Linked DNA regions of Homo sapiens: regions 1, 3 and 4 are each linked to region 2. The links come from fine-mapping of genetic effects on gene expression. A gene starts in region 2. Each other region holds a variant in brackets. All regions are shown on one strand. Distances are between the middles of the regions.

Evidence for each region. PIP is the estimated chance that this variant, and not a neighbour inherited with it, causes the effect.
Region 1: its variant is fine-mapped to the expression of FMN2 in testis (GTEx, PIP above 0.99).
Region 3: its variant is fine-mapped to the expression of FMN2 in lung (TOPMed, PIP above 0.99). The same link has a PIP of 0.9 or more in thyroid.
Region 4: its variant is fine-mapped to the expression of FMN2 in lung (TOPMed, PIP 0.96).

What each region holds. Positions count from the first base shown.
Region 1 is chr1:240,110,543-240,115,798 of GRCh38, forward strand. All of the region lies in intron 1 of FMN2 (formin 2), which reads left to right. Among named protein-coding and RNA genes, the nearest start is that of FMN2, 21 kb to the left of the region's middle. The variant T/A (reference allele first, on the strand shown) is at 2,238.
Region 2 is chr1:240,089,889-240,095,144 of GRCh38, forward strand. FMN2 (formin 2) reads left to right here and starts at 1,995. Exons shown (of 18, transcript NM_020066.5): 1 at 1,995-3,836. The coding sequence starts at 2,222.
Region 3 is chr1:240,415,745-240,421,000 of GRCh38, forward strand. All of the region lies in intron 15 of FMN2 (formin 2), which reads left to right. Among named protein-coding and RNA genes, the nearest start is that of GREM2, 190 kb to the right of the region's middle. The variant A/G (reference allele first, on the strand shown) is at 3,134.
Region 4 is chr1:240,184,070-240,189,325 of GRCh38, forward strand. FMN2 (formin 2) reads left to right here. Exons shown (of 18, transcript NM_020066.5): 4 at 4,138-4,193. Among named protein-coding and RNA genes, the nearest start is that of FMN2, 95 kb to the left of the region's middle. The variant A/T (reference allele first, on the strand shown) is at 2,808.

The DNA.
Region 1 (5,256 bases), 21 kb after region 2:
CTAACTGCGGTGTCCATGTTTATCTAGGCTTGTGAGTTTTGCTTCTCAAGGTAAGAGGAGTATTTATAGCTAGTGTATGACTGCAAAGCTGATTCTACAAGCTTCACTTTTGATTAGCTACAGTGTGGAAGAATATGTGGGAAGAGCGTGAGGGGATTAGTACAGCAATAATTGGAGAACATTAATGATTAATAAGTCCCCGACTCTCATTTAATGAATATTATTTTTGATGTGAATTTAATAAATATAGTAAAACAAATATGCAAGCCCTTTTTTTTAAAAAAAATTGAGGCTAGGAATTCTAGCAAGCAGTGTCTTAAATATTACCTTGTTGTTAAAATCTACTAAATTTAAGGAAAAAAACCCAAAACTTGGTGGATGAAGATATTTGAATCTGTGATTACCTTGCCTATTACCGTACTATTTCAAATGCTTTTAGATCCAACTTATGATTTCCTTCTTTTAAGTTGAACCAACATTTTTAATCACATTTACAAGTAGAGAGTATTTGAAGTATATCTTGATCATAATAATAACAGGTAACATTTATTGGGTACTGTTAAGCCTGTTACAAAAATTGTTTCATTTAATTTTCACAGTAATCCTCGGAGGTAATGAGGATGATTATTTCCAATTTCTAGATGAGGAAACAGGATTACCAGGGGTTATGTAACCTGTCTAAGGCCATACCTAGCATAATGGAGGCATCAGTGTTATCGGAAAGGGGTCCCAATCCAGACCCTAAGAGAGGGTTCTTGGATCTTGTACGAGAAAGAATTCAGGGCAAGTCCTTAGAGTAAAGTGAAAGCAACTTTATTAAGAAAGTAAAGGAATAAAGAAAGGCTACTCCATAGACAGAGCAGCCCCGAGGGCTGCTGGTTGCCCATTTTTATGGTTATTTCTTGATGATATGCTAAACAAGGGGTGAATTATCCATGCCTCCCCTTCTTTGACCATATAGGGGAACTCCCTGATGTTGCCATGGCATCTGTAAACTGTCATGGCACTGGTGGGAGTGTAACATGAGGATGACCAGAGGTCACTCTGGTCACCGTCTTGGTTTTAGTGGGTTTTAGCCGGCTTCTTTACTGCAATCTGTCTTATCAGCCTTATCAGCAAGGTCTTTATGACCTGTATCTTGTGCTGACCTCCTACTCATCCTGTGACTAAGAATTTCTTAACCTCCTGGGAATGCATCCCAGTAGGTCTCGGTCTCATTTTACCCAGCCTCTATTCAAGATGGAGTCACTCTGGTTCAAACGCCTCTGACATCGGGATTGAGATCCAGGAAGTAGCTTCTGTTGCTTAAGCTATGGCTGCAATCCCATGCCTCCCCACATGGGTGTACTTCATGAAGTCAAGGTACAGAGTCCACGTGTTTTCAGGGGAAAGGAATAGGCAGAAAATAAGGAACACTTTCCATCCTATAAAAGAATGAGAGAATTCTTCATGGTTATACTATTCTAGATTTCTTCAGTTCTGCATAATTAGGTATATAATATGTAATATGTGTGATCAATGACATGGGCCTTTCCTAGATAAAGATAACGTGACCTTTGACAAGACACCTAACATCCTTAGGCCTGCATTTTCTTTTTTTTTTTTTTTTGAGACGGAGTCTCACTCTGTCACCAGCTAGAGTGCAGTGGTGTGATCTCGGCTCACTGCAACCTCCACCTCCTGGGTTCAAGTGCGCCTCCTGCCTCAGCCTCCCGAGTAGCTGGGACTACAGGCACGCACCACCACACCCAGCTAATTTTTGTATTTTTAGTAGAGACCGGGTTTCACCCTGTTGGCCAGGTTGGTCTCGATCTCTTGACCTCATGATCTGCCTGCCTCGGCCTCCCAAAGTGCTGGGATTACAGGCGTGAGCCACTGCATCTGGACAGGCCTGCATTTTCTAGTTCAGAAAATGATATTAGAGGCTGGGTTTGAAGGACAGGAAGATGGCCCCTCCCACTGAGTCTTTTATTTGGGTGGAGGGAGGAAAGGGAGCAGAAAGAGCCCAAGAAACTTTGCCCGTCTCCTGCCCTTATCTTTATAGAGTTATAAATTTCTCAGAAACTAGCATTTATATACTTATAAAGTTTATAGCAATCTGTGCTATAGAGATGATTTTATCAGCTTTTGAGAATTTTCTCCACTTGCAGTGTTGCTGCACCTGCTGGGGGTGTGTTCTCTAGGCAGTGTCAGAGCCTAACTCTTCCTTTATGGGGATTGCACTTGCGTTTTCCTGA[T/A]AAGTGACCCTGGGACAGTGTGTGCTTCTGAAGGCCTCCCTGGCTGACCCTGTGGTCCGGGCCCTAGGGACTGACCTTCTAGCTGGCACCAGCTCCTGCTGTGAAATGGCTGCTGCCCACAGGCAGTGTTTTGTGAGCTGTTCATTCAGCAGATAGATTTTTGGCAAATTGACTTAGTGCTGTTTTGCAAAGAGTAGGAGCTCAGGAAATATGGTTGAATAAATAAACGTAAGCAAATATGAAGTAAAATGCAGGCTTGAATAGCTGGACACTTGAAAAAGTTAAAATTACTCTAGGGCCAATGATTTTCATTTATTGGTGTGGTTGACATGTCTGTCTAGGAACAGTGATTTGACCAAGGAGTAGAGTGAGGGGACTGGGGGATACCTTGACTGGGGGATACTGTGGTCATGGGGTGTGAAAGCCCGTGTCAGAGGGAACCGGGAAGCCTCTGGTTCCTGGCCCCAGCCAGCCAGTTTGCACAGTTAAGAAGTAAGATTGTGGCCGGGCACGGTGGTGCGCACCTGTAATCCCAGCACTTTGGGAGGCCGAGGTGGGCGGATTGCCTGAGGTCAGGAGATCGAGACCATCCTGGCTAACATGGTGAAACCCCATCTCTACTAAAAATACAAAAATTGGCCAGGCATAGTGGCACACGCCTATGGTCCCAGCTACTCGGGAGGCAGGAGAATCGCTTGAACCGGGGAGGCAGAGGTCGCAGTGAGCCGAGATCACGACACTGCACTCCAGCCTGGGGGACAGAGCAAGACTCCGTCTCAAAAAAAAAAAAAAAAAAAAAATAAGGTTGTGTTTAAGGCTTCAGGGCAGTCCATTCTCCCTAGTTTAGATTCAAGGCATCCTAATCCTATTTAGTAGGTGAGTGTCTCCTGATTAAATTCTCAATTATCAAATGCAGGAAGAGAAATAAAAGTTCATGTCTCTGTCCACTCCCCCTGACCTGGTTGGTCAAATTACATTCCTTGAACAGAAAAGGAGTTCAGTATAGTCCAGCTGGAGTGTGTGTCCTGGAAATAACAAAAACTGTTTGCCTTCCCACCACAGCGATTTTGACTCTTTAATAAACTGTGTTCGTATCTCTTGGTTTTGCAAAATCAGGAACATGCTTTGTTTAGTTTTGTGATCTTGAATTTTCACATGATTTTTGTGTCACATATTTCTGTGTAAGTAAATGTTTTTAATAGTGTGATTTAAGATATTTTATTGTGAAAGTGGAATATACACACTCAGAGAATTACAATGAATTCCCATGAATCCATTACTCAGCTTCAGTAATCATCAATATTTTCAATGCCATAATAGTTTTATCAACCCTTTTTTTCCACTTCTACCCCATGCCACCTACTTTTTTGTGAAATAATTTAAAACAAGCTCCAGACATCATGTTATTTTAATATCAAATATGTATCTCAAAAATGGACTTTTAAAGTATGCTACAATGTCATTCTTTATATTGAAAGCAAATAGAGTAAGTTGTTCAATATTACCTGGTAACTAGTCCATCCTCAGAACTCTCTGATACTCTAGAATGGATGCTAGGTGCAATCTGACAGTTGAATTGGTTCATGCTGAGTTCTCCTTTCTTTTGTTCCAGAGGCTGGGGGACAGCAGGAAAGCTCGATGGGGGATGCTGTGTACTTTATGATCACCCCCAGCAGGGGCCCACCATGTCTGGCTTTCTCAGTTGTCCTGAAGCTGTGAATGATCCCTGGGTTTGGGGCTGACAGCTTGATCCTTTCTTTGCAAGAGTTTCAATTGACCTTTTCTCTAATGGATTTTCCATCCACTTGCTGTTCTTTAAGTGAACCCATTATTTCATTAGGGATTGCAAAATGGTGATTTTCTAATTATATCATTTCTTTTTTTTTTTTTTTTTTGAGACAGAGTCTCACACTCTGTCGCCAGACTGGAGTGCAATGGCGAGATTTCAGCTCACTGCAACCTCCGCTTCCCAAGTTCAGGTGATTCTCCTGCCTCAACTTCCAGAGCAGCTGGAACTACAGGCATGCTCCACCATGCCCAGCTAATTTTTGTATTTTTAGTAGAGATGGGGTTTCACCATGTTGGCCAGGATGGTCTCGATCTCTTGACCTTGTGATCTGCCCACCTCGGCCTCCCAAAGTGCTGGGATTACAGGCGTGAGCCACCGCGCCCGGCCAATTCTATCATTCCTTTTGCACATTTTGGCTGGAATTTTTCTGTATTGAAGACTTTATTCACTAGGTATGGTTGTTACCCTGAAATACAGTTCTTTCTAGAAAGGCAGCATAAATGCCTCATTATTTCCTATTCTGTTATCAGTGCCCTAGCATTCTTCAGTGATAGCTGATGTTTTATTTTTCTGGTTTCTTTAAATATATTTAATATGTTTAAATCAATTAAGTGATTATTCTTTCTGTAATAGCATGGCTTTTAATGGCTGTATAGTTAGCAGTCATGTGTATAAAGCTATCTTTTTTTATTTATGTCTGTATTGTTGGACATTTTAGTTCCTTTGAATTTTGGTACTATTAATAATCTATTTGTTATAGTACCAGGAACTGTGATAAATACTTGACATGCATTATCTCATTTAGTCATCATAATACTCCCATGATGCATCACTCTGAGGATACCTCTGAATATTTACCTAGAATAGCTTTTATAAAGTTGAATTTCTGGGTCAAAGGGGTGAATTTTTAAAGATCACTGACACACATTGCCAAATTGCCCCTTAAAGCTTTCCTTGTCGGTGCTGATGCCCACTTCTGGGTTTTGGGATACCTTGAGTTCAGGTTGAGGGACACTGGAGGAACAAAACTGGTAAACCTGCTGGTTTGGTGGTTCTTTGAATTCTCATCTTTTTCCCCAGTCCTCCTGCTATTACAATACAGTCTTGTCACAGAGCCAACCCCAAAACTGGGGTTCTGCCTGGGAGAAAACATGGGTTCTTGGCTTCCCTCAGGAAGCAATTCAAGAGGGAACCACAGAGCAAAGGGAAAGCAAGTTTATTAAGAAAGTA
Region 2 (5,256 bases):
CCAAGAGTAAACTATGCAGTGTTTTATGTTATAAAAAAATTGTGGTCTAAATTTGCAGGTTCCAGTATTCTTTCTGCTGCTATGTGATCTTGGACAAATCTCTTAGCCTCTCTGAGCCTGAGCTCATGCTTCAATTATCCTTGAGTTAAGAGCACCTATGTGTATTTGATACCCACACTTGTGAATTTCAAATGAGCCTTTGCATGCAATAGAGATTTGTCAGCTGTGACCTGCTGCACAACTGTCACTGTGAAAAAAAATCATCAATTCTTTCCCTCCCTCCTTCTTTCCCTTCTTTTGTCTTCTGAACGTCTAGAATATAGCACAGAAGAAAACAATAAGGAAATCAGTAGTTCAGAATCAAAGACGTTCTGCTAAAGAAAGAGCAAAAATCAAGATTCAAAGTACCTCAGCACTCAAAGAAGCAGAAAATTCTAATAGCTGCAGGCAAATTGTGCCCTCTGAGGAGCCTAGATTCTAGAAAAAAGGAGAGAGCAGTCTTGTGAAAGAGGTGAAACAAAGGCTTTTCATGTACTCCGGAATTGCTTGGAGACTGGGATATAACCCTGGCAAAGTTATTAAAGTTGATTTCTCTAAAGCATTTACTCGAAAGGGCCACCTAAGGATAACTGGCTAACTGCCCTTAAATTACATTTATTTTTAAAAACATAGTTTGAAAAAGGTTAGTAACCAAAGACTTACAAGACCAACCTTTTTTAAAAAAGAATTTTAAAGGCTGGTTCATAATATGCAAAGGAAGACTACACATTTGCTTGCTACATTTAAGTTGCACAGTATAATATATAGCTTTTCTCCCTCCTCTGGGTTATTTTGAAAATATTAATAAGTTGGATGTCTATTCCATATTTTCAAAGTGGTTATCAATGACTTTTACTTAAATACTTGTAAAACTTATTAATGCCACTTTAATCTCAGTTTACTGCTTAAAGCTTTAGATATCCATATTTTTTTAAAAAAACTATTCTTAAAAAATAGGTAACTAAATTTAATAAATAATGAAAACAATGACAAAATATTCAATGAGGAAAAATGTTTATCCCCATATTGTGGCCAGAACGTTAAGAAACTTTTACAGGACGAAGTCTGCCTGGAAGGGTTTGCTTGGGAAAGTGGTAGTTTATAGCATAACATCTGATTTTGTGTGTTTGTGCCAAGGGTGTTTCCTTTCTGTCTTTTTCCTTTTTATAGGCAGCCACAATAGTGACATGTTTAATATTGATGAGTTTGACCTCCTGGGAGTTATCGTATATGCACCCTTTTTGAATACAAATGCTGTTTAATTTATATGGTAAACACATAGAATTTGGAGACTAGCATTTTAATCAACACTAATCTCAGTATTTTCTACTTCTCCTACCTCTCCTTCTGTCAACAACAACAAAAAAATCACAAACCAATTTTATAAATGACAGCTAATGTCCTCTCCTGGAGAAGCAGGGTCTGTGTGTGAAACATAAAAGCAGCACCATGTGTAGTAACCTCTCCTAAACCATATGCTCAAGCACATTAACAGTGTTCAATTAGATGATCAATTATTCAAGAAACAGAACAATCCATTCATTCAACAAATATTTATTGAACAGCCATGCAGAGGCAGACAGGGGGTTGTGTATGTGGCTGTGACCCGATGGCACCTCTAAACTGGAATTGGGCTTCAGTTTTTCTCCGTGTAAAAATTTCTTCTTTTTTATTTAACTTTTCTCTTGGCAGGTCCAGCAGCTTTGAAGATCAGAGTGCATCTTCCAGCTGACGATCTCTTCGGTCGGGGACAATGCATTCGATTCGCACGGTGGAGATTAAAGTCCCCGAGATAGAGGAAACGTTTTTCGCGCCCAGGTTCAGCGAGGAGCCGCGCGGGGGCAGAGGGGGCGGCGGCGGCGGGCGGGGAGCCAGGCCCGAGCTGCGTTCTGCGCAGCCATTGGTGGGCGCCGCGCTCTGCACTGAGCATGTTCGCGCCCCGCCGGCCCCTAGCCGCAGCCGCAGCCGCAGCGACGGCAGCCACGGGAGCCGCCGCGCATTATGCAAAGCGGCGGCAGATGCGAGCGGGGCCAGCCGGGCGCGCGTCGGCCTCCCCTCCCAGCGGCTCCCCCCGCCGCCGCCTGACTCTCCCGGGAGACTCCCTAGGCCCGGACCTGGGGCCGAGGAGGGCCGGGATGGCCTGAGTGCCCGCGGCGCGGCGGCGCAGCAGCGGGATTGCACCATGGGGAACCAGGATGGGAAGCTGAAGAGGAGCGCAGGTGATGCTTTGCACGAAGGCGGCGGTGGCGCCGAGGATGCGCTGGGGCCCAGGGATGTGGAAGCCACAAAGAAGGGGAGCGGGGGCAAGAAGGCGCTAGGCAAGCACGGCAAGGGGGGAGGGGGCGGCGGCGGCGGCGGGGAGTCGGGCAAGAAGAAGAGCAAGTCCGACTCCAGAGCCTCGGTGTTTTCCAACCTGCGGATCAGGAAGAATCTGTCCAAGGGGAAAGGCGCCGGCGGCTCCCGCGAAGATGTACTGGATTCCCAGGCCCTGCAGACCGGGGAGCTGGACAGCGCTCACTCCCTGCTCACCAAGACTCCAGACCTCAGCCTCTCGGCGGACGAGGCCGGCCTGTCGGATACCGAGTGTGCGGACCCTTTTGAGGTGACCGGTCCAGGGGGTCCTGGGCCTGCCGAGGCTAGGGTCGGGGGCCGGCCGATCGCCGAGGATGTGGAAACTGCAGCAGGGGCGCAGGATGGACAAAGGACCAGCTCGGGCTCGGACACGGACATCTATAGCTTCCATTCGGCTACGGAGCAAGAGGATTTGCTTTCAGACATCCAGCAGGCGATCCGCCTGCAGCAGCAGCAGCAGCAGCAGCTCCAGCTCCAGCTCCAGCAACAGCAGCAGCAGCAGCAGCTCCAGGGCGCCGAGGAGCCTGCAGCGCCCCCCACTGCCGTCTCCCCTCAGCCCGGGGCCTTCCTGGGCCTGGACCGGTTCCTGCTGGGGCCGAGCGGCGGGGCTGGGGAGGCCCCGGGCAGTCCGGACACCGAGCAGGCGCTGTCCGCGCTCTCCGACCTGCCCGAGAGCCTGGCCGCCGAGCCCCGGGAGCCCCAGCAACCGCCGTCCCCCGGCGGCCTCCCGGTCTCCGAGGCGCCCAGTCTCCCGGCAGCGCAACCCGCGGCCAAAGACTCGCCCTCCTCCACGGCTTTCCCATTTCCCGAGGCCGGGCCGGGGGAGGAAGCGGCCGGAGCCCCCGTGCGAGGGGCTGGGGACACGGATGAGGAGGGTGAGGAGGATGCTTTTGAGGATGCGCCCCGGGGCTCTCCGGGGGAGGAGTGGGCCCCGGAGGTGGGAGAGGACGCCCCGCAGAGGCTGGGGGAAGAGCCGGAGGAGGAGGCGCAAGGACCTGACGCCCCCGCGGCCGCTTCCCTGCCCGGCAGCCCCGCGCCTAGCCAGCGCTGTTTCAAGCCCTACCCGCTCATCACCCCCTGCTACATCAAGACCACCACCCGGCAGCTCAGCTCGCCCAATCACTCCCCGTCTCAGTCCCCTAATCAGAGCCCCAGGATCAAGAGGCGGCCGGAACCCTCCCTGAGCCGAGGGTCCAGAACTGCCCTGGCCTCCGTAGCCGCCCCGGCCAAGAAGCACCGGGCCGACGGCGGCCTTGCGGCCGGCCTGAGCCGCTCGGCTGACTGGACGGAGGAGCTAGGCGCCCGCACGCCCCGGGTGGGAGGCTCCGCGCACCTGCTGGAGCGCGGGGTGGCGAGTGACAGCGGCGGTGGGGTGTCCCCAGCACTGGCCGCCAAGGCGTCTGGGGCCCCCGCGGCTGCGGATGGCTTCCAGAACGTGTTCACAGGTGAGCGCGCCCTGCTGCTGGCCTCCGGGTCTCAAGTCGCCTGTCAGTCAGGGCCTTCCCCTGCCACCCGCCCTCCCTGGGCTCTGGAAGGCGGTGACCTGGTAGTGGCACATCTCTTCTCCGTAGGGAATCCTTTTCCGCCCAGCGAGCTCACCCCCCACGGTGAAATGACTTGGACATACTTGTTGGTTTTCTGTGTTCTTACAAGATCTTAAAGGGAACAACTTAGTTGTGTCTGTCCTAAGTTGCTCTGCCCATTTCACCAAAATACCTGCTATTCACAAAGTTTCGGGTCACGCCAGGGAGATAAACTCCTTTTTCGTCTCGTTAGCTAAACCATCATTCTTCTCTTTCATTTTTCATCACCACAGCATTAAAAAGAAAAAAAATTGTTCATGGTTCTTTCGCAAGAGTCGGTTTTGGAGGCACAAATCATTTATTCCGGTACGATCCAAAGGCAGTCTCTGACCGCTCTCATAGCTGTGTGTATTTGTCCACGTTTGGTATGTATGTGATATGTAGTTTCTATCTTGCAGCAGTCTGGGTTCCGCTGCTTAGTGAAGTTAAGCGGTCACTCACTGCTGTTTGCTGCTGCAAGAAAATCCGATACATGCTATTAGAAAATTAATAAATAAATAGAATAGTAGGGATAATTTTCATTCAGTTTCATGGTCCAGCCCAGAACAGCCTGTAGTTTGGAGACAGTGAAGGTGGAAAGGTCAAAAGCACGTCTAGTCCAACTGGTACCTCCCCTCCCTAGCATATGTTATAGACTCATACCCAGGGCGGCATAAAGCACAGCCAGAGTATGTTTGCTCTGGTCAGTGTCAAGCAGTCCAATGAGTTTATCCTAGCTTACAGGCTTACAGGGCCCAAGGCCTTACCTTAAGAGCCCAACATGTTTACCTAACCTCTATTCTTAATTATTAAATGAAATAGAGTGTTAGAATTTAATGAATCGAAAAATATGAAAAGTTACATGACTACTGATAGGTTTATGATAAATATTTGAAGGATTAAACATTTCAAATGCAATCTGAAAATTTTAAAATCTTATGTTCTATTATTTTAATAAATACATTATCTGTAAAACATTGCTTAGATGAAATTTCTCGGCACAGACAGCGACTTCTTAGTTGACTAAATGCTGGTAATATTGGGGTAGCTACTTTTATTGACCACATTTTAATTTTCATCTGTGGGCCACCTTTTATTTTGCCCTTATAGGGTCTTACCCTTAAAAGTAGCTTCTTCCATTCATTTCACATACTCTTATTTTTCTTCTTTTCCACCTTCTCTTTATTGTGTAGATTGTTAAAAAGAATGTTTGTAGTTTTATACCCACTAGATAAATTGTAAAAAAACAAAAACAAAATGCAAAACAAATAAAAAAGAAAGATCACTTTTGATAGAAGAAGAT
Region 3 (5,256 bases), 330 kb after region 2:
GCAGTGCAATGCAGTAAGTATTTACCGAGTGATTCATATGAGTAAGGATGTGATAGCTGCTATAAGAGCTGCAAAGTTTATTAAGATACATCCCTGTCCTGGAAACACTGCCAGCTTCGATGAGAATACAACAATGTTAGATATATTCGTTTTGGAAGATACCTTTCCCCCAGTTATTTTCATTTCACAGCTTCTCCAGCCTCCTTCAGCTTCTATTCTCCCTCTTTGCTTTTCTGTCTCAATTTTCCTGCCCAGCCCTAAATTCACAGAGTAAATCCACCAGACCAGAGCCCCTTCCTCTTTCTGTATGTGAAACTACTCCTGCACACATCAGTCTCCTTTTCTACCACCAGCCTGGGGGAAGTAACTCCTCCCATCAGTATCTCATCTGGATACTTCTCTCTCCTGATTTCAACTTCTCCCTTCTAGCCATTAATACATTTACTTTATTATCATAAAATAACGACTTAAGAAAGAAACAAAAAGCAATTCCTTGCCTGTACATTCCCTTTCCACTCTTTTTTTTTTTTTTTTGAGACGGAGTCTTGCTCTGTCACCCAGACTGCAGTGCAGTGGTGCAATCTTAGCTCACTGCAACCTCCACCTCCTGGGTTCAAGCGATTCTCGTGCCTCAGCCTCCCAAGTAACTGGGACTACAGACGTGCCACCACCAAAAATTAGACACTGGCTAATTTTTATATTTTTAGTAGAGACGGGGTTTCGCCATGTTGGCCCGGCTAGTCTCAAACTCCTGGCTTCAAGTGATCCTCCCACCTCAGCCTCCCAAAGTGCTGGGATTACAGGCGTGAGCCACCATGCGCCCAGCCTCCCTTTCCATTCTTTGTAGCCAATCTTCTCCTCCTCATTCCATCTGTACTTATGTCCCTTGTTGATATTTATGTTATTTAATCTTGCCTCATTTTCTGATTTTGTAGCCAGTCTTTTAGGATGTTTCTCTATTTTATTGGTCTTTGAAAGAACCAGAAATTTTGATTTGTTGATTATCTCTCTCTTCTTTTTTTTTTTAAGTTGTTTTTTTAATTGGCTTTCTATTTCACAAATTTCTGCTCTTTAATATTCTCTTATTTCTGCATCCTGTCTCTCCTGGCTTTGTCCGTTGTATGAATAGTTCATTTATTTTTAATTTTTCTTTTTTTAAAATCATATACTCAGAGCTCTAGCTTTGCCATTAAGTTCACTTTAACAATATCCCACTAGTTTTTAAATGTAGAATAGATTTTATTGTTGTTCAGTTATAACTTTGTTATTTTCTCTTTAGCTGATGAGTTACTTATGTGTATATTCGTTGTGTCTGTTTCAAATGCATGGGTTTTGTGTGTTTGCTTTGCTGGTAATTATTTTCCTATTGATTTACAGTAAATTGTATTACACTTAGTTTGGGATCTAGTATGGAACCTGTCTTAGTAAATATTTGTATGTCCTTGAGAAGAATCAGTTTGCCCTGTGTGTGATTCTATGATATATATTCTCATCCGCATATTTTCTCACCCTTTAACATCTCTGAGACTGGGGTACGTCTTACAGTGGATGGCATCTTATAATCGATGTGGGCTCGATTTAAAGTCAGCTTCTTCCAGAGAGGATTTGGATTTGTGTGTGCCATTCAACTGAGGACACTATCAATGTGAAGCTACTTTAATTAAATTCCCTGCTTTAGCTTGAGAGGGTTTTGTTTTGTTTTGTTTTTATAGGGCCTGGTACTGTGAATTCAGATGGAAAACCTGCATGATTTCTGTCTGGCTTATGAGTCATATTTGCAAGGGAACTTTTTTTGGTGTCATCTGTTTGCCCAGTGCCAGAGTTGAAACAAGTTTCCTTACTGTCCCTTTCAGCATGGGAATTTCTTTCTCATTTTCTTTTACGTGAGTCCTTTGGTATCTCAGTTTATGGTTTGCATATGGGAGCAACTCCTCTATTAAGACTCTTCATATTGGACTATTTGTCTTTCTTAGTGGTACATAAAATATTATTTTTAAAATCCATGACCTGCTAAATAAGTGAAATACAGCATATTTTAAAATAAAATTTATTTATCGTAAATTTCACATCTACATCATTACTAATTTGTAGAATCTTCTGCTATAATTGTGAATGTTTGTTTCATCTTTCAATTCCATGACGTTTTCAGACAATATACTCTATATGGTTCTTATCATCCTGATGGAATGTTCTTTTTTAATCATTATACAATGTCCTTTTTTATTGTCATTAATACACTTCACCTTATAATCCTCTATTGATTAATGCTTCATCACGCTTTCTTTTCACATTTTCCTGGCATATATTGTCCATCTATTTATTTTTACTTTTCTGGGCTATAGTGATTAAGACATGTCATTTGTAAGCAGTATTTATTTTATCTGAATTTTTATTTTGATATTCAATCTGATAGACTTTGTTTAATAGTTGTTTTAAATTCTTTTATATTTATTATGATTTTTTTTTTTTTTTTGAGATGGAGTCTCACTCTGTCGCCCAGGCTGGAATGCAGTGGCACAATCTCAGCTCACTGCAACCTCCACCTCCCGGGTTCAAGTGATTCTGCCTCAGCCTCCCAAGTAGCTGGGACTACAGGCGCCCACCACCACGCCCGGCTAATTTTTGTATTTTTAGTAGAGACGGGATTTCACCATATTGGCCAGGCTGGTCTCGAACTCCTGACCTCGTGATCCCCTCACCTCAGCCTCCCAAAGTGCAGGGATTACAGGCGTGAGCCACCACGCCCAGCCTATTGTTGATGTATTTTTATTTATTGCTATTAACTTAGTAGTGTGTTTTTAAGTTTCCAAACTTAAGGGATTTTCGAAGTTCCATTTCTTTCTTAATTACATAAAGGTTACATAAAAGAAGACTGTCTGCATAAGAATAATTCTTTGCATTTTTTGAGATTTGCTGTATGGTCCAAAAGATGGCCAACGTGTATAAGTATACACAGTGTTCCAGTGTTGGATGTAGTGTTCTATTTTATTATTTTAAACTGACTCTTAAATATTCAGTATCTTTCCTGATTTTGTCAGCTTCTCTCTGTCAGTTACCAAGAGTGTATAGTAAAGACTTATAGCTGTGCATGGTGGCTCACGCCTGTAATTCCAGCACTTTGGGAGGCCGAGGC[A/G]GGTGGATCACCTGAGGTCAGGAGTTCGAGACCAGCCTGGCCAACATCATGAAACCCCGTCTCTACTAAAAATACAAAAAATTAGCTGGACATGGTGGTGGGCGCCTGTAATCCCAGCTACTTGGGAGGCTGAGGCAGGAGAACTGCTTGATCCCGCGAGGCGGAGGTTGCAGTGAGCCGAGATCGTGCCACTGCACTCCAGCCTGGGCAACAAGAGCAAAACTCCATCTCAAAAAATAAAAAATATAAATATAAATAAAAAGACTTACAGGCAGATATGTCAGTTACTCCTTACACTTCTGACATTTTTACCCTGTGTATTTTCAAATGCTTTCGTTTTATGCCTACATATCTAGAGTTTTTCATCTTCCTGGTTAACCTAATCTTGTTTTCAGTGCTATCTCTTTTCTGGTAATGCTTTTTGCCTAAATTTGTACTTTGCCTTATGTTAATATTGGTACATATCAGCTCTTTTTGGTTCGCATTTGTCATAGCACCTCCACAATTTTACTTTCAACCTTTCTGTGTCCTTATGGGCAAAAAAAAAAGTGTGAGGGTTATTCCTCAAACACCTGAGGGCATCAATCCCAGTTGTGTACCCAGAGTGGGTGATTGACCACTACAAGCTGTACTTTTGCCAGGATTCCATTACTTCTGACCGTGTAAGCTCCCGCAGTAATGGAAGTGGCCATGTGGAAGCTGTGGGTCTCTGGAAATCAGTGTCTCCTCAGACCCTGTGTCCTGTGGCCCTCGAGACATCTGAGTATTTCCCTTTTGCACTATACAGTCTACTGAGTGATGGCTGCAGGTTTCTTTGTAGAAGGACTAGGGGAAACATTACAGTGTATCCTTGCTACCATGTTTCAGGGTCCTTCCTCACAGGGATGCAATTCCTTTGGTCAGGGGGTCCTGGATCTGAAATTGGCTCAGTTCTGGGAACTGATCAAGGAATCATGATTTTCTATAGAGCAGCCACCTGTAGCCTCCTGTTTTCCCACTCTTGCCCTTTTCTGTGGTCATAGAGGTTGAGCAGCACACTTGTCATTTGCCCCTAAGGATGCTATGCTCCACTAACCATCTCCACAATCCGCTGAGAGTCAGGCCTCCTTGGCTGCCCCTTGGCTTTTTGGTTATTATGGTAATTGTGGTACCCGGGCTTCTGGTCATTGAGCTTTACCACTTGGACCCTATTATTTAGGATCCTATCATCCCAGTGGATTTTAATGAGCCCAGCTCTGCAACCTCTTCCTACAGAGAAGAGCTCCAACTGCACTGTTCAGTGATGCTGATACCCCTCTTCCTGATGCATTCTTTATGGCCTCTGGGTGGGGCCTCTGGGAACTTCCATGGATAATCCTTTGCTCAGTTTTTCTGGACTCACACAATGCATGCTGGTGTGCCTACTTCTCTCAGCTTCCACATTCCTTCCTCTTCCATCTGCCAGGGCAACCCCAGCACACCTACTCCTCTTTAAATTGGCTATCACTCAGAAGAGACCTATAAGAGAAGAGCCTCTTCCTGAATCGCTCCACTACATGGTAGCTAATTCTTGCATCACCTTCCATATATGATCTCTTACCCCTTTTCAGGCCTAGCACTTCCCTAGCTGGGTCTTCCAGGGATGTCTCCTTAATTGTTGTCCTATTGTCCTGCAGCCAAGAGAAGAGCTGGTAGCTTCTGAGGGGGCGGGCCATTTGTTGCAAGGTGTGATGGTGTTCACACCAGGACATTTTTACTAAAGATATCACCTGAGCTAACCTGATAAAATGTGCTGGTGTGGATGCCGTCACAGCTGGTGTGGACACCAGGATATTTTATCAGATTAGCTCTAGTGATGTCTTCAGCAATCACATAGCCACCGTGTGCCAGAGACTGCCCATGCCCCACATTCCCACACAGGACAGGGGGCCGGTAAGAGAACCTGTCCCAGAACTCCATCTCAGTCCCGGTTCTCGCAGACTACTTGTGCTCCTGCTGTTAGTTCAGGTTCTACAAAAAGCAAGTGCCAAGATTGGATTTATTTGGAAAAACAGGAAGGGAGCCAGAGGAAGCTGGGACAGCTGTTAGACCTGATGCAGGTCCAACCTCCATGGAGGAGAGGGAAGGAAGGAAGGCTGGGTGAG
Region 4 (5,256 bases), 94 kb after region 2:
CTCTGTAAATACACAGCTCATCCAAGTATGTTTTGTTTCGTGAGTGAAAGGCTTATTTTGTGATGGTAAAGAGGTCAGTCCTGAAACATTTGGAGTCCATAGGGAGTCCAGAATTTTAGATTATGCTCGGAATTTTGAGGTAACTTTTTAAAATGGAATATTTAACCTTTTTTTTTTTTTTTTTTTTTTTTGAGACTTGCTCTGTCGCCCAGGCTGGAGTGCAGTGGCGCGATCTCGGCTCACTGCAAGCTCCGCCTCCCGGGTTCAAGCGATTCTCCTGCGTCAGCCTCCCGAGTAGCTGGGACTGCAGGTGCCCACCACCAGGCCGGCTCATTTTTGTATTTTTAGTAGAGACGGGGTTTCACCGTATTGGCCTGACCTTGTGATCTGCCCGCCTCGGCCTCCCGAAGTGCTGGGATTACAGATGTGAGCCATTGCGCCCGGCCTGTTTTTTTTTTTTTTTTTTTTTTAAGAACATTCTGGTTTCTTAATTTTAAGGATGGGTGAAGGAGGTGGCCATTTTAAATGTACCCTTGAGAGCTCTCTCACCAGGTTAGTCTTTGAAAATAATAACCATTCTAGTGATGAATATTCGATGGAGATGATCAGTCTGTCCTAGAGCTGGGTTTAAGGCAATTCCTGAAAGTGCCCTGGATCCTGGGAGGAGGAGAGTGTTGGGAACGTGGGAGTCGGGAGTTCCGGGAGTGATCACTTTCATTTAGGGAGCTCTATGAAAGTTGGAACTAGGCTGATATCTCAGATTCACCTATCTAGTGACTCCACTCTTCAGCCATTACTGGTACATCAATTTCTCTCCGCTCCCTAAAGGACACTTTCGCCATTTTTCATGTTCCCTTTACTTTCTCCCTCCTATACCTTCCCCTTCTCTTTCTCCCTCCTATACCTTCCCCTTCTCTTTCTCCCTCCTATACCTTCCCCTTCTCTTTCTCCCTCCTATACCTTCCCCCTTCTCTTTCTCCCTCCTATACCTTCCCCTTCTCTTTCTCCCTCCTATACCTTCCCCCTTCTCTTTCTCCCTCCTATACCTTCCCCCTTCTCTTTCTCCCTCCTATACCTTCCCCTTCTCTTTCTCCCTCCTACACCTTTCCCCTTCTCTTTCTCCCTCCTATACCTTTTTCCTTCTCTTTCTTTTATTCTGTATTGTTTTCTTTTTCCTTATCATGTATTTTTCTCTTCTCTCCCAGTGGTTCTCATTTATTTTCCCTTTATTTTTCAGTGAAGTTATTCTGTACATCTCTTTCATGTTAAAATCTTGACCCTCTAGAACTCCTATTTTCCAGCTTATGATTTTGAAGACAGCATTTCAACCTGCAAATTTCTCTTCTGTGTTTTAACACACAGATTCAAACAAATAAAAACTATAATGAAAGGGATGGGATTGGGAGAATGAATTCAGTTCAGGTAGCCATTGAATTAGACAGAGAGGAGCTGAAAGTTTGGGTGTAGGTGTGCAGAATATTTTGCTGATGCATCTTTCTAATGTGGTTTTCTAAGTACGTTTTTCTGATAAACTGCACTTGTTCTTTACCATCAGAGCCCAGAAGTTTACTTTTTGGGTCCAGTTACCGGGTCAAGGACTATAGAACAAAGCTAGAAAGCATTTTATGCATTTCTAATGTAAAGAACTCTTTGTGTACCACCAGGAGAGCCTTTAGGCTCTTGTGGCACGATCTAAATAGAAGAGGAAGAGAGACTTTTCCCCACTGGTACAAAGCCAAGACTTGTCTTGAGTCTATTGTGTTTGGGAGGATTTGGAAGTGACGAAAAACAATAGAAAATGAGAGCGTTCCGGAGTTTGGATTTGCTTTAATATTAACTGTTAACTAGCTTTGCTGTTAAAGATCTTTATTAAAATTTGGCTAACTCTGGTGTTAAGTTCAGAGTAGAGATTTGTCAATATAAGAGAAAAGAATCCATTTTTGATTAGCTCAATGATATGCTATATTTATCTGGGAAAATGGTTGTATTTTAAGGCCAGTTGTTTATTGCCACTGTGACACTTACTGGTAAGTGACTGCATCATGCTATTCTCAGTGAGTTTTGTTTTAAAATATATACTCCTAGCTGAGATTCAGAAAATAGCTAAAGGCAAGGCAATATCTATATTGTCTCTTGTAAAATCCTTACTCTCTCTTTCTCTGCCCAGGATACCCCACTTTTCCTGGTGGAACCCACTTTCATGTTCTTATCATTGTTTTGATCTTTCATTTATTCTTTCATTCACTCCTACAATTACTCAACAAATATTTTAAGCACCTACTAAGTACCAGGCACTATTTGGATGTGGGGGACACAACAAGAGGAAAAACTGACAAAAATTCTTGCTTTCACAGAGTTTATGTTCTAGTGGAATAAGAGGTATAAATAAGTAGGCAACCAAATGCATTATGGAGTATATGGTGTGATGATCCAGGTTACGAAGAAAGTAAGGGTGAGTGTGTGCTGAGTGCCAAGGAGTGGGTGGGGTCGCTGCTTGAGCAAAGCCCCGAAGGAAGCAGCCACAGAGTGGGGCTTGCAGATTTTGGGAAGAAGAGTGAGTGCAGTGCTCTGGGCAGAGGCAGTAGCCACTGTGGCTTTGGCGGCCCTATGGAAGAAGCATGACTGGTGTGTGACAAGACAAGTAAGCTGGCCAGGGTGGCTGGCCTGGTGAGCAAGTTGGGACAGATGGAGGTGGGTAGAGAGGCTAGGGAGTAACAGTAGTTGAAACCAGGCCTTGTGGGTCCCTGTGGAGACAGATTCTCATCTGAGTGAAATGAAAACTTTCATTGTAGCTTAACAGTATGTTA[A/T]GCTGTTTAAATACTAAATGCCTTTTATTTTTCTGTAGCATTGTCACATATATCAGCTACCATGTGGCTAAATTGGAAATGTCAAAATGACCATAAAGAGTGACTGCTGGCCGAGCACGGTGGCTCATGCCTGTCATCCCAGCACTTTGGGAGGCCAAGGCGGGCGGATCACGAGGTCAGGAGTTCGAGACCAGCCTGGCCAACATGGTGAAACCCCGTCTGTACCAAAAAAAAAAAAAAAAAATTAGCTGGGTGTGGTGGCGGGTGCCTATAATCCCAGCTATTCGGGAGGCTGAGGCAGGAGAATCGCTTGAACCCAGGAGGCGGAGGTTGCAGTGAGCCAAGATCGCGCCGTTGCACTCCAGCCTGGGTGAAAGAGCGAAACTCCATCTCAAAAAAAAAAAAAAAAAAAAAAGAAAAGAAAAAAACAAAACCAAAAACAGTGACTGCTGTACCTTGTGTCCAGGGTCTGGTCTGCATGCCAGTCAGGGGTGCAACGCGACAGTCAGGAGATATAAACTCTCGTCTTCACCTTGCCAACAACCACTTGCATTATGGGCTTTGAATTTCTCATCTGAAAGGTGCAGAGGATGGATGAGATTAGTGGTTTTTCAGGCTCTGATTCATGGAGCATGAGGAATTCCTTGAAGGCCCTTTCATTTTTATTTTTATCCTAAAGGCCCTTTTATTTTTAAATTTGCACACAAGCTTCACTTAGAAGAAAGTGCCCTCTCGCTTACGAAAAGAAATCCCTGACTTGGTTATGCCTTAGGTCTTTTTAGAATGATGAATTTGCAGTCTCATAGAATCTCAGATGACATGAGGACTAAAAGAGAAAAACTGCTTCAGAATCCCTTCTTACTCAGTGTCTCTTGGTGACAGTGTTCGTTATCTCTTGTTGAAATCAAGGGGCAATTTGACAACAGTTAGATGAGGCTTTTGAGCTCCCATCCTTCAACCTTGGTGAAGTGGCTTCTATCGTGATACAGACTTCAGCTAAGTGAATAATATAATCTGTGAAAGTCTTAGAAGGACTTTCTGGCACAATTTAGAAACTAGCAATCGAGACAAATAAGGATAGTTGATATATAGAGAAGGGCATAGGAATATCCCAATTTTTAAAAATGACATGAGCATTCTCATTGTATGTATTATATATATTGAAAAGTAGTCATATCCTAATAACCCAGTTATATAATTGGAAGAGAGACTGGATATTTTTTGGTACTTATGGTTAATGATATATTTTAGTGAAAGTTTTATTTTCTGATTGAAGAAATAGGAAAATTGTCCTTTAAGATACTGACTGTCTGCTTCCTTTCCAATCTAGAATCTCAATCTGCTGTTTCAGAAACTCCCCAAAAACGCTCAGATGCTGTCCAGAAGGTAAGATGATCTTATTAGGATGTCAGATTCCCATCTGTCTTATTTGTCTTAAGATTGTGACAGACTCTGCGATTTATCTTTCCATCTGCCCGGCTGGCTAGGATGCCCTTGTTTTCCCTAAGCCTGCAGTGGAATCCAGTCAGGCAGAAGGGGATGTTTTCTTCCATTTATTTTTTGCATACAAAATCAGCCTTGAAATGGAACTGAGTACAAGCTTTTCAGAAGCTGTTTTATTCTATATCCAGCCAAAGAGTTGGGCCCAATAACAGCGGGCTCCAGCAGGAAACGGTGGCCACTCCAGGGAGAAGTCTGCGAGATGTGCCTGCTCAAACAGTCCCATGGCTATGATCTTTAAAAAGAAATCTGTCAGAGCTTTGCTAAAGTCAAATAAGGTTCTTATTACTTTGGTGGATGAAACATTAATTAGTATCTGTTTAATTTCCAGGAAACTATTTTTTTTCTGTTACTGTATTAGTCCGTTTTCACACTGCTGATAAGGGTGTACCCAAGAATGGGCAATTTACAAAAGAAAGAGGCTTATTGGACTTACACTTCCACATGGCTGGGGAGGCCTCACAAGTTCATGGTGGAAGGCAAGGAGAAGCAAATCACATCTTATGTGGATGGCAGAAGGCAAAAAAGAGCTTGTGCAGAGAAACTCCCATTTTTAAAACCATTAGATCTCGTGAGACCCATTCACTATCATGAGAAGAGCATGGGAAAGATCAGCCCCCATGATTCAGTCATCTCCCACCAGGTCCCTCCCACAACATGTGGGAATTATGGGAGCTACAAGATGAGATTTGGCTGGGGACACAGAGCCAAACCATATCAGTTACCAAAGAAGCCAAATTTTGTGGGTTTTTTTTTCTTACGCTAAAATGCAAGCTATGCTAAAATGGATTTCTTATTAAAAAAAAAAAACTGCAAGAAAGGAAACGTGTATGGAATAGTAATTGTGGATAGCAATTGCTCTTTTGGATATAAAACCATTGCTTACAAACCAATTTACATTTTCACCCAACTATGCTTTTGTCAGTAACTTAGTATTAGAAATGAACAG